Linked DNA regions of Homo sapiens: region 2 is linked to region 1. The links come from fine-mapping of genetic effects on gene expression. Tissue or cell type: tibial nerve. Region 1 holds a variant in brackets; the other region holds the start of a gene. All regions are shown on one strand. Distances are from middle to middle.

Region 1 (2,684 bases):
GCTTTTACCAAAATGCACTCTTCATTATCAAAATTCTGTCCAACCTAGTATATGTCTCCTCCTCCTATTACTGCTAATATTAATAACAACAACAACTGCAGTAACGAACATTTGTTGAGTCCTTACTATGTTCCAGACACTGCTCTAAGCGCTTTAGATCTATTAACGTATTTCTCCTTCATAACAATCCTGGAAGGAGAGCATTATTAACCCCATTTTCCAGGTGAGAAAACTGAAGCACAGAGAAAAATAACTTGCCCAAGGTTACTCAGCTAGAAACTAGGAGAGCCTAGATTTGAACCCAAGATGCTCCATGCACATAGAAGGCACTTGGTAAATATCTAGTAAAGGAATGCATCTTACCCTGGAATGGCATGACAGGCCCTCAGGGGAGCTCTCCAGCTTCACCCGCTATTGTCAAGCCTTCACCTCCTATTGTCTAGCCTTCACCTCACCAACTTTCCTCCTCTCCCCTGACATACCACACTGCCCTTTCATGATTCTGTGACTCTGCACGCACTGTTCCTTCTGCCTGGGATGCCCTAGACCTCACCACTACCACATTCACCTGCCCACCTGTATTCTTTTTGTTTCTTTGTTTTGTTTTGTTGCGATAGGGTCTCACTCTATCGCCCAGGCTGGAGGGCAGTGTGATCTCAGCTCACTGCAGACTCGACCTCCTAGGCTCAAGCCATCCTCCCACCTCAGACTCTGGAGTAGCTGGGGCTAGAGGCATGCACCATCACACCTGGCTAACTTTTGTATTTTTTGTGGAGATGGGGTTTCACCATGTTCCCCAGGCTGGTCTTAAACTCCTAGGCTCAAGCAATCCCCCTGCCTTGGCCTCCCAAAGTGCTAGGAGTACAAGCATGAGCCACCGCGCCCAGCCCCCACCCATATTCGTCTTACTGGACTCCTATTGATCCTTTAAGGCCCAGCACAAGTGTCTTTGCTCTGTAAATCCATTAGGAGTGCCCTGCAAATTGGTTCTCAAACAAGGCACACACACAGAACAATTCTCTGTAAACATTTTTTACCTCCTACTATGTCAGGCTCACAGTGCCCATCCCGCTAAGTCCAGCATAACGCAGTCTGCAGGGCAGAGCCAGTGCTATGGGTTTAGGGGTGAGGTGGGGCAGCTGCACGCAGAAGGAGGCGTACAAATGGCCCTAAGGGACAGGTCAGCTTCCAGGACCTGATTTACACATATTTCTCCACTGTTTTAAGGTTTAGAAAGTCCCTAAGAGGAAAAACATTAAGATAATTGTTCTCGGGAGGGGGCGGGGGGGAACGTTTGGAAAAATCTGGAGACATTTTTGGTTTTCAAAACC[T/C]GGGGCAGTGGGTGGGTGTTGCTGGCATCTAGTTGGTGAAGGCCAGGAATGCTGCTAAACATCGTACAATGCCCAAGACAGCCCCCACAACAAGGAATTCTCTGGCCCAAAATGTCAACTGTGCATGGCTGAGAAACGTCATAGCAAGCCCTTCCTCCAGCATTATCCAGGAGCTGGAGAAGGAAGAAGGGTGAGCGGGGAGAAAGGAAACTAGTGCGACCCTCCCTCTGTCCCCTCCTCAGGTGGACGGCGTGCTAGAAAACTGGATCTGGCAGATGGTGGCCGCGCTGAAGTCTCAGCCGGCCCAGCCAGTGAACGTGGGGCTGGTGGACTGGATCACCCTGGCCCACGACCACTACACCATCGCCGTCCGCAACACCCGCCTTGTGGGCAAGGAGGTCGCGGCTCTTCTCCGGTGGCTGGAGGTACCGACCTGCCCCATCCTTCCTTCACCTCCCTTCCCTCCTTTCCCTTCCTCTGAGAGTGAATGAATTAAGCTGGTCTCCAACAGCAGCCCAGGCAGGAGAAGCACTAATGCTCAGCTCACAGGAATGAGAAGGCACAGGACTGACACCAGACCCCAGGGCTCTCTCAGACGCCTCCCTTGAACCCCTGTTTCACAGAACCACCTTCTCCCCTCTCCTCATCCACTATTCCTCTTATGCTCACCCCCTTAGACATGCTAAGGGATACAAACACACCCTGTAAGCTATCAAGCCCCCACACAAATGAGTGGGATCACTTCTGTAGGGCATTAGTGTCCAGGGGAAGACAGGCAGGCAGGAGGCTGCAGCTACAAGGCGAGGTCACAGGTACCTGAGTCCCAGGAGAGTCAGCCAGTTGAGAGATTAGTTTCAGTTTGGAGTGTGAATAAGGCACCTCATTTCTGAGCAGGCACGAAGAACAGGGTGGGCGCCACAACACACTGGACCGCAAAAGGCTTTCATCCAGGCAGCTCTTCTCCTGCCCCCATCCCGCTGCTGTCTTCCAGGAATCTGTGCAACTCTCTCGAAGCCATGTTCACCTAATTGGGTACAGCCTGGGTGCACACGTGTCAGGATTTGCCGGCAGTTCCATCGGTGGAACGCACAAGATTGGGAGAATCACAGGTAACCATGCCTAATAACTCACACACTGATCTCCACTCCATAGGGGCATCCAACAAGGACCTGCTTTTCCAACAGGCTCATCATTAAAACACCCCAACACTTATTGTGAGGGATCAGCGCTCATGAGAGGACTTGTGACATTCTTTCAAACATGACCAATGTCATGGATTGCTGTTCCAGAGAATTCAGAGCAAATTATAGCCTCAATTCCTATTGCCTGCCCTCAAACGAATACCTCATGTTG
Region 2 (2,684 bases), 210 kb after region 1:
CTTGGTCCTGCAGTCATAAGTCAAAGTGGCAAAGAAAAAAACAGAAACAATACATTACATGAAATAGATATTTTCTAAATTATCAAAGGCTACAGACACTCATCCAAAGCATTCCTCAAATTTTTTCAATCGTTGCTTTTAGGCACACCTTGAGGTTTTTAAGTTTACTCTGGGGCAAGTCAAAAAGCTTACCTAAAATAAAGCACTTTAAGCAAGAATAAAATGATGCAGCTGGTCCTAGAACACACCGGAAATAAAAATCGTTGTCTTCAAAACCCGAAACAAGAAATGACATGCTTTTAGCAAATTTGACTTTCATGTGCAGGGGGGAGGGGGCACTGTTTTGACAATCCACTAACTACACTGTACATCTACTCCACCTGAAAGTTTAACGAAACTCTTCAAGTTGGGTCACCCAGGGACCGAACTTCTACTCTAAGAGACCCAATCCAGCCTACAAATCAAAGAACATCCCCAAATGGTTTACCCTTCTCCCGACCAAACCCTTTCCCCTGGGCGACAGAATGTTTTCAAGAACACCAACACACCCTCCTGTGATCTCTCTCCAAACACAGGACACAGGAAGAACCGAGGCCACTAGTCTCAGATAAGCGGGTGATGACTGCTGCCACTCCACGGGCGGCCCCTCTGCAGAATGGGGTCGGTCAGGACCGGCGCGCCGGGTAAAGAACAATACACGAGCCCAGCTGCAAACAACACAACTTCCCACGAGTCTGCGCGGCGGGTCTCGGCGGCGGAGAGGACTTCGGAATCCGCCACCGGGCAGGGGCTGGGGGAGGAATGGTGAGCAGGATGAGCGCTGAACGAGGACGGCGAGACCGCCAGCCTCGCTGCGGCTGCCTGCACCGGCGCCCGCCGAGCAGACTGGAGGGATGCAGCCACCAGCCTGGGTTCCACCGCTCTCACCAGGCGACGCGGATGCCCCGACTTCGCTTCTCTGGGAGGCGACCCCCGCCTCCCGGGGCCGCCAGGGCGGTGGGGGGCGGGGAAGGCCTCGCCGGAGGCTTGGGAGCCTCCTCGGCCCGCCACCGAAGGGAAAGCGGTCGGGGCGCGGGGGACAATAGGGAGCGGGGAGCGCGGCCCGCCAGAGTGGCGCCGCTGGCCGGCTGGGCTGACTGACGCGCACGCCGCGAGGCGCGACTGGGCTCCGCTCGGCCCGGCCGCCGCTCCGCCGTGGTCGCGGCGCCCCCGGCGCTCGCAGTCGTGCCTCACCTCCCATCCCCGCCGCCCAGGAGAGGAGCAGAATTAACACTCTCAGCAACACCATCTTCCGCTGCCGCTGCCGCCGCCGCCGCCTCCTCACGGGTTAACAGCAGCACATCGATCCGGAGGGAGAAGCTGAAGGGGCTTGGTCCGGAGCCTCCACGGGAAGCCGGGACCTCCCCTGGCAGGAGAAACGGCGAAGCACCTCCCTCTCGCTCCACTTCAGGGGCCGGCAACGCTCCTAGCTCCTCCAAAACAGGGACCTCCCTCCCCCTCGTTCGTTTCCTTCCTCCTTTCCCCGCTTTCCTTCCCTTGCTCGTTCCCTCTTCTCTCCCCCCCTCCTTCGAAACTCAGACCTCCGCCTCCTTCCTCACCACGTGACGCGCGGGCACCCAACTGGCACGCGGAGCCGCGCCCCTACCTCCCGCCCCTACCCGTCCCCCAGGCGCTTCAGGGGCGCGCGCATGCGCGCGGGGGACGGTTCCCGTGCTGCTAGGCCTGCCGCCGCTTCCTGTCCGCCGGCGGAGAGCTGGGATTGGGCTTGGGAGGCGGGGTTTGTCCTGGTCCCGCCCCGGGGCGGGAGCGCTCCTACGCGGAGATAGTGCTCCGCTACGTGTTAGAGCTGCTGAGGACCTTCCCTTGGGCTAAAATGGTCCGTGGAAGATGTAAGCAGGGCTGCTTTCGACTTCTTAACGTCACAAGTAACAGAGGTTTTTTTTCTTCTTTTTCTGCCTCTCTTGGTGCACCACAGCTACCAAGTAAACAAAAAGTCCCAACAAGCAGTAATTATAGCGGCAGCTGCCCCAGTGATGCGAACATAAATGCAAAGACCTTCAAGCAGCAGGAAAAAAAGACACCATGTCCGAGATGTAATTTTCCGAGCTCTTTACAAATTTATGTCACAGACTAAGGCTTTAGCCTTTGCAAAAGCATGCAACCTGAACCAGACTGTCTTGAATCTCCAGTCCAGAAAATGTCCTCTTTTCTCTCTGTCACATCTTTGAAGCGAATCCACGCACATCTTCTCCCCAACTTCTTAAAGCTTGTGTTTGTTTTCTCGTAACTCATTTTGATTCTTTAAACTTGGATGTCATGAACTAGAACTTTTTATGGCCATTTAATTAGATATTCTTCATCTATTTGGTATCGTGCTTGAGTAGGCCGAATTAGGGAGAGTGTGTGTGTGCGTGTGTGTGTGTGTGTATGTGTAAATTGTTTTGTTTTGCTTTCTAAAGACAAGGTCTCCGCTGTCTCGCCAGGCTGAAGTGCAGTGGTGTGATCATAGCTCACTGTAACCTCCAACTCAAGCCGAATTAGGGAGAGTGTGTGTGTGTGTGTGTGTGTGTAAATTGTTTTGTTTTGCTTTCTAAAGACAAGGTATCCGCTGTCTCGCCAGGCTGAAGTGCAGTGGTGTGATCATAGCTCACTGTAACCTCCAACTCAAGCGATCCTCCCGCCTC

The links. PIP is the estimated chance that this variant, and not a neighbour inherited with it, causes the effect.
Region 2: it holds the start of ADAM10, and the variant in region 1 is fine-mapped to the expression of ADAM10 in tibial nerve (GTEx, PIP above 0.99).

What each region holds. Positions count from the first base shown.
Region 1 is chr15:58,540,212-58,542,895 of GRCh38, forward strand. It overlaps LIPC (lipase C, hepatic type), which reads left to right. Exons shown (of 9, transcript NM_000236.3): 3 at 1,574-1,756; 4 at 2,323-2,440. Among named protein-coding and RNA genes, the nearest start is that of LIPC-AS1, 43 kb to the left of the region's middle. The variant T/C (reference allele first, on the strand shown) is at 1,332.
Region 2 is chr15:58,748,247-58,750,930 of GRCh38, forward strand. It overlaps ADAM10 (ADAM metallopeptidase domain 10), which reads right to left and starts at 1,461. Exons shown (of 16, transcript NM_001110.4): 1 at 1,234-1,461. The coding sequence starts at 1,288. RefSeq lists enhancers at 594-1,229, 681-810, 1,901-2,080 and silencers at 921-1,210, 1,541-1,830.